2 linked regions of the Homo sapiens genome follow. The protein of the gene in region 1 interacts with the protein of each later gene in a biochemical or structural test. Each region holds a gene or a part of one and is shown on either strand. Other genes may lie near its edges.

What was found.
Region 2: the proteins of MAP3K12 (region 1) and MAPK8IP2 form a complex in vitro, tested with the Homo sapiens proteins (one study listed by BioGRID).

The regions. Positions count from the first base shown.
Region 1 is NC_000012.12:53,485,907-53,489,712, forward strand, and holds part of MAP3K12 (mitogen-activated protein kinase kinase kinase 12), read right to left. Parts: intron 1,523-3,806; 5' UTR 1,486-1,522; coding exon 1,041-1,485; intron 717-1,040; coding exon 533-716; intron 342-532; coding exon 150-341; intron 1-149.
Region 2 is NC_000022.11:50,607,096-50,610,901, forward strand, and holds part of MAPK8IP2 (C-Jun-amino-terminal kinase-interacting protein 2), read left to right. Parts: intron 1-3,116; coding exon 3,117-3,215; intron 3,216-3,611; coding exon 3,612-3,684; 3' UTR 3,685-3,806. UniProt on the Homo sapiens protein: The JNK-interacting protein (JIP) group of scaffold proteins selectively mediates JNK signaling by aggregating specific components of the MAPK cascade to form a functional JNK signaling module.

The sequences.
Region 1 (3,806 bases):
CAGCCCTTCTGAGATGGGACTGTCACTTGGAAGAGGTTTCTGAGATGGCCACATGGACCTAGGGCATGGTTTGGAAGCCGGGAGAAGGCCACACTGACTTGAGTGGGTCACCTGCATGCACATCTGTTGCTCCCTGCTTGCTTACTCACTTGGGTGACTTGAGATCCCTGTGGATAATCTTGTGCAGGTGCAGGTAGTTCATGCCACCAGCGATGCCCATGGACCAGTCAACCAGTAAGGAGGGGGTGACAGGGCGGCCAGCCCGCAGTACCTCATACAGCTGGCCCTGGGCGCAGAACTCCATGAGGATGCAGTAGCAGGGAGCCTGGGTGCACACACCCCTGGGAGCCAAACAATGGTATGAAGGCCTCAGCTGGCTCAGCATTCACCTGATTCATACCTGGAACCCCCATTCCCACCCATTCCACCTATGGATCTCCTCTGGGGAAGGATGGGGTAGGTCCCACTGCCCAGGAGGGTACCAGGCCTTAGCATAGTATCCCCAACACCCAGCCCCTGCCCTGGACCTCACTTGAAAGTGATGATGTTGGGGTGCTTCAGCTTTCGCAAGTGCTTGATGTCGGTTTCTTTGAGGTCTCGCACCTTCTTCACAGCCACCTCCTCCCCGTGGAAGCGCCCCAGGAAGACAGCACCCTGGGCCCCTGAGCCCACCCACTGCAGGTCCAGGATTTCCTCAAAGGGGACCTCCCAAAGGTCTGTGGGCAGGAGGCACAGTGCCACAAGCCTCAGAAAGAGCCACACTCAAGGCCAGGGACAGGATAGCATTGGGTTGGCTGAATTGACTTAAGGAGGGTGAGGCAGAAAGCCAAAAATAGGCCAAGAAGAAGGTTCGAGGGGACAGGGAAGGAATGAATGGGTGGCCTTAAAAGAAGCTGGGAAGTTAGAGGCTGATGGATGGCTAAGGGACTAGGGCTGGGCCATGGGGAGGGAAGGGACCATTGCGTGACTTTAGCGGAGCTGACCAACAGATCTCGGGCTCAGGGAAACAGAGAGGAGGCTCCCACAAGGACGTGGCCTACCTTCCTGCTGCTGCTTGTGCTCAGTGGAGTAGGCTTTGCCAATCATGGTCCAGACAGGGCGCAGGCAGCCAAAGAGGCCCTCAAGGAAGCCACTGCCACTCTGGCACTGCAGTCGCACCTCGTCAGCTCGAACTCTGGATGCCCGACTCTCAGGTGACCCAGCTGCTCCCCCTGGGCCCCCTGCATCCTGCTCATGTAGCTGCAGGACACTGTTGGCAAAAGGCTCAGGGGGCGGCTCTCCACCTGGGGAGGGGCTGGGCCCTCCCCCACCCTGCCCACCAAGGGGTACCACATCTCGAAGTACACACTGGGTAGGCGTCAGGTCCTTCTCGGGAGTGCAGTCAGAAGTGTCTGGGTCCAGCTTGCGCATGGATGCCTCACTTAGGGTAGACACAAAGCCCCCAAAGGAAGGAGAGGGTGTTCGGGTCTCATGGAGGCAAGCCATCGCCTCTGGCCCCTGGTATGATGGTGAACACTGGGCCCTGTGGGAATGAAGGAAGGAGGGGCTGGGCTGTTAAAGCCCCAGGACTGCCTGCTCAGGACACTTATCCCAGAGGCACAGACTGGGGTGCTGGGTTCACAGTAGCCCCGCTGGAGGTAACACTTGTGGCTCCGTTTCCCATGGCCCTCCAAATTGCACCTTGAGCCATCTTAGGAAATCTGATACACTTGGGCTTCCTCTCAGGCATGTTAGTAAGGCAAGTAATAGGTAGACAGGTATCGTACCTGAGTATCATTCTCAGGTAACAGCCCCACGTGGGTACACACTGGTAAAATATGTCTCAAATTCAAGAGTAATGGTAACAGATGAGTTCCCTTCTCCCTGTAAGATGACTAATTCATTGCTGCAGCACATTTTTTTCACCCGAGACTCACAGGCACACACAGGTATCAGAAGGGTCTCACATTTACACCTTTACCTCGGGGTCAACCTCAGGCACACAATAGTAACACCTAGACCTCCTTCACATTGAAGCACACACAGGATGCTGGTAAACCTTTCAGACACCCTTGGACAGCATTCTTGAGCTGCCTACACACAGGCGATGCACCCGGGCCTCCCACCCAGGTACTTACACACGGTACTACTGAGGCCCTCTCAGGAACACTCAACTCAGGTGAGAGCCTCATTCTAAAACACACCCCTGGGCCTCTCCAAGGTAAGTGAAGGTTGTAACCACAGAGTTCTGTCCCCCCAGCACAGGTGGGGAAAAAGGCAGAAGCAGCCAATGGGGATGCAGACACTGTCACAGAAGGCCACTGCTTCATCCCCCTTGGCCCTCCCTTCAGTCCAGCGGCTCTCCCAGGGGTCAAACAAGGTCTTGTCTTCTCTTTCCTCTTCTCCATTGCCCCATCCTCTGCTCCCCAAACTTTCCAGGCAATGGAGATGTGTCCCAGTTCATAGCTGGGTGCTATTTAAAAAGCAACCATTAGGCCGGGTGCAGTGGCTCACACCTGTAATCTCAGCACTTTCAGAGGCCGAGGCGGGCGGATCACCTGAGGTCAGGAATTCGAGACCAGTCTGGTCAACATGGAGAAACCCCGTCTCTACTAAAAATACAAAATTAGCTAGGCGTGGTGGCACATGCCTGTAATCCCAGCTACTTGGGAGGCTGAGGCAGAAGAATTGCTTAAACCCGGGAGGCTGAGGTTTTGGTGAGCCAAGATCATGCCACTGCACTCCAGCCTGGGCAACAAGAGCGAAACTCTGTCTAAAAAAATATATAAATAAATAAAAAGCAACCATTAAAAAACCTGAATCTGGCACGGTGTGTTGGCTCATGCCTGTAATCTCAACACTTTGGGAGGCTGAGGCAGGTGGATCACTTGAGCTCAAGAGTTTGAGACCTTGGCTGGGCGCAGTGGCTCACGCCTGTAATCCTAGCACTTTGGGAGGCTGAGGTGGGTGGATCGCTTGAGGTCAGGAGTTTGAGACCAGCCTGGCCAACATGGCGAAACCCTGTCTCTACTTAAAAAGAAAAAATTAGCTGGGCGTGGTGGTGGATGCCTGTAATCCCAGCTACTCGGGAGGCTGAGGCAGGAGAATCACTTGAACCCCAGAGGTGAGGTTGCAGTAAGCCAAGATCACACCACTGCACTCCAGCCTTGGGCGACAGAGTGAAACTCTGTCTCAAAAAAAAAAAAAAAAAAAAAAGTTTGAGACCAGCCTGGGCAACATGGCAAAACCCTGTCTCTACCAAAAATAGAAACAAACAAACAAACAAAAAACAACAAAGCTGGGCATGGTGATCCTGTGACTGTGGTCCCAGCTCCTCTGGAGGCTGAGGTGAGATGATTGCTTGAGCCCAGGTGGCGGAGGTTGCAGTAAGCCACTGAATCCCAGCCTGGGCGAAGTAGCCAAACCCCGTCTCAAAAAACAAACAAACAAACAAAAACCCTGAATCCTGACTTGCTTCTGCCACATAATGGCTATGTGACCTCAGGCGAGCTGTAGTTGAGCCTCAGCTATACAAAGGAATAAACTGGCTGTCACTAAGGCACAGCAAACCCTTAATCCTACACCAGACTTGTCCAGAACTTGGCCCCAGGCGCCATGCTGGTCTCCCAACTCACTCCACACTTGTCAGTTACCAGATCCTGAGATTTGAAGATTCCCAAGAACAAGCATCCCTCTAATTGTTCCTCATAGCTAGCAGGGTCCTTCCATGAGCCCCTGGGTTAGTCTGGAAATGATTGCCATACATTCTGAATTGCAGTGGGGGAGGAGTGGCAGGAATCTCTACATCTAGAAGGGTTCAGTAGATG
Region 2 (3,806 bases), on another chromosome or scaffold:
CCTGAGAGCTCCACCTGCACCCACTTAGCTCTGTGAGCTGAGCCTGCAGTGGCGCCTGCTCTGAGCTGGACTCAGGAGGCGTGGGTCAGACAGGCTTGCATCCAGTCTGGGTGGAGAGAGGCACACGGGCGAAGGATGTGAGAAGCCTGTGTGGGTGCAGAGGACGCCTGAGTGGGCCTGGGGCTCAGGATGGCCAGCCTGGAAACACAGCAGGTGACAGCGGTGGGGAAGTGGATCTTCCTGGTGGGGTCTAGCTGAGCCAAGGGTGTGGGATGCACTGGTCGGGGGCTATATAGGCTCTGGGGCCCGCGTGTAAGGGGAGCAGCTAGAAATGCCGGGGAAGACCTGGACCCTTTTGATTATGCCAAGGAGCTGTACTTAATCTTGCTGGTAATGAGGCCATAGAAGGCTCCTAATGGAAGGAGGTGACACAGGGGACCTGGGGGCTGCTGAGGTTATACAGGTGCTATGTCCTGAGACCAAGTGTGCAGATGCAAGAGGCACTGAAGAGGCAGTACAGGCAGGACCTAGGTTGACCGGCTGTAGAGGGTGACCTGGAAGAGACCAGGGTGACGTCTCCCTGGGGGATGGTTGTACTGCAGCCCACACACCGAGAGGGGATGCGGGATCAATCACAAACGGTGAGACTGAAGTGGCCGTTGGTCCCATGGGTCTGGAGTTTAGGAGGGAGACCTGGAGGGAAGATACCAGGTCAGAGCAGGTAGATCACTGAGACGAGAGGGGAATGGCCAGGCAGGGTGAGGGGAGGAGGGGAGGAGGAGGTGCTGGCATAGGAGCAGCAGGCCAAGGGGGGCTGCCAGCTTCCCTCCAGGCACAGGCCCCTGCCCTCTGTGTCCCAGCACCCTAGAGGAAGGAGATCTGGGAGGAACCAGAGAGGCAGAGCCAGCCAGAGGCTGGAAAGGACTTGCGGGGAGTTGGAGGAAGCAGGCTCACAGACAGGCAAGACACAGCAGGGCACGGTGCTGCCAGGACTGAGGCGTGGGACAGACGTCAGTGCATCTTGGGGGCCTTGTGGACTCTCCCTGTGGTCGAGAGTGAGGGTGCTGCCTGCTGGAAGGTGCGGAGCCCTTTTGTGTTGTCCCCGCCGAGTGCAGAGATGGTCTGATGGGATCCATGCGGAAACGCTGCTCAGTGGGGTGGAGAGGTGGGACAGCGGGCAGCGATGCAGACCAGACTGCGGGGCCAGCTCTGGGGTGGAGAGGTGGGACAGCGGGCAGGGGCGCAGACCAGACAGCGGGGCCAGCTCTGGGGTGGAAAGGTGGGACAGTGGGCAGGGGCGCAGACCAGACAGTGGGGCCAGCTCTGGGGTCACCAGGACAGCGAACGGGGCGCAGACCAGACAGCAGGGACAGCTCTGGGGTGGAGAGGTGGGACAGCGGGCAGGGGCGCAGACCAGACAGCGGGGCCAGCTCTGGGGTGGAGAGGTGGGACAGTGGGCAGGGGCGCAGACCAGACAGTGGGGCCAGCTCTGGGGTCACCGGGACAGCGAACGGGGCGCAGACCAGACAGCAGGGACAGCTCTGGGGTGGAGAGGTGGGACAGCGGGCAGGGGCGCAGACCAGACAGCAGGGACAGCTCTGGGGTGGAGAGGTGGGACAGTGGGCACGGGCGCAGACCAGACAGTGGGGCCAGCTCTGGGGTCACCGGGACAGCGGACGGGGCGCAGACCAGACGGTGGGGCCAGCTCTGGGGTCACTGGGACAGCGGACGGGGCGCAGACCAGACAGTGGGGACAGCTCTGGGGTCACTGGGACAGCGGACGCTGCCAGGAGAGGAAGAATGACCCAAATTTCTCATCAGAAGGAAACTGGGTGAAGCTCAGGTCTCAGGCTGGACAGGGCCCCAGCTAGAATTTCGTGAGAGGAAGGTGGTCAGTCGAGTTTGGGGTTTGGAGTCAAGATGTGGCAGGGGTGTGGGAGGAGGTGGAGGAGCTGCTGCCCTGGCCCAGACCTTCCTAATATTTGTCACCCCAGACCCCCCGTCCCCGGTCCCTTGCCACGAGGAGGCACGGACGAAACCGTGTGAGGTGAACGATGAACTCGTTTCTTCATGGCGGTGGTGGTAGGTCAGGAGAGCGTGGGGTGTGCTGTGTTGGGATCTGGCATTAGGATGTCTGGTGTTGGGATCACAGACTGTAGCCTTTTCTCCCAGGGCTGCCCATCCTGCCTGTGTGTCCTGGGCAAGCTCCTGAACCTCTGTGCCTAGCTCTCCATCAGGGCCCTACCTCAGAGGGCTGTTGTGAGGCTTCTGTGAGTTAATGGAAAGGGCAGAGGATGGTGCCTGAGTAATGCAGGAAGCCAGATCTGTGGGTCGGCGCTTATTACCATCATGACTTGAACGCGGCATTTGAGGCGGGCCCTGTGCTCTGTCTGTGGACAGCGTGCACACACTGTCCTGGCAAGCAGACCATCATGTGGCTTCCCATTTGGTGGAATCGCAAAGCCCCGAAGCCATGGGGGAATGGACGGGTCGGCCAGTTTCAGGGGTGGGGGTGGGGCAGCGTCCTGCTGCAGAACTCTGCCTGCCTCTCCCTCTGGACGACGATTTTTGATTTTTGCTAATGTCTGGGTGGAGGAGCTGGGCAGTGACTCCATGAGCGAGGCCCCGCAAGGAGCTGCTTTCCAGTGGGAGCGAGGGGTAGACCGGAAGAGGGTTTTACAGACCAGGGGTAACGTCCAGCCCCACCTCGGAGCTGGGCAAGGGGCTGTCAGTCTGCTAGGCCCGCAGGAGGAGGCCTGAGTTGGCAGGAGATATGGTCTCCAGTAGCCAGGCAGAGGCCTTGCTCTGTGGTCCTGGGGCAGGCCCTGAATAGGGCCACAGAGGGTAGCAGCACCGGCTCAGAGAAGGGAGAGTGGACGCCCCTGGTCATCATGGAATTAACTCAGAGCGTGAACTCTTGGTAGGTGCCCAGCCCTGTGCTTGGGCTGAAACCAAAAAAAGACAACTTCAGATCTTGAAATTGTGCGACCCCCACACTCCTGTCCCTTACCCTCTCCCCAAGCCCTTTGTTCCTGCCTCTTCTCTCTACATCATTTGTGGGGTGGCCAAGGCTGGGCCAGGGCTCTGACGTGCCCTCCACACTGACTTGCCCGCAGCTATTTCGGCTTCATCACCAAACACCCCCTGCTGAGCCGCTTCGCCTGCCACGTCTTTGTCTCCCAGGAGTCCATGAGGCCGGTGGCGCAGAGTGTGGGGTGAGTGGGGCCCCAGGGTGTGGGTGCAGAATGGGTGCAGGGTTACGGAGGTGGGGAGCGGAGGTGAGCAGGTGGGGGCAGGAGCCTGGCAGGGGAGGTCTGGGGAAGGAGAACCAGATGTGCTGTGTAGAGAGGGCAGTGGTGGGTGACAGTTTGGGGTGCTGGGCATGGGGTGGGAACAGGCACAGACACATGGCCCAGGCACTCTGGCAGGGGTAGAATTGCTGGGCCAGGAGAGCTGAGGGTCACACTTGGGGGTGACATGGCCATGCCTGGGTGGGGGGTTATGGATGGCTGCAGAGGGAGGAAGGAGGGAGAGCTCAGAGGCTCTGTGGAAGGCAGTTTGGGGGTTGAGGACCGGCCCTGAGTGGCTGGTGGAGGACCGTCTTTCCCCAGCCGCGCCTTCCTGGAGTACTACCAAGAGCACCTGGCGTACGCCTGCCCCACGGAGGACATCTACCTGGAGTAGCCTGCCCACCGCTCTGTCTCCTGGCCGTCTGCTCCAGGCGCAGCTGGGGCTGAGGATGTCTCAAGAGGCCACCATGGCTTTGGCAAGGACTGGATTGGGGGGACATGGGACCTTACGCTTGT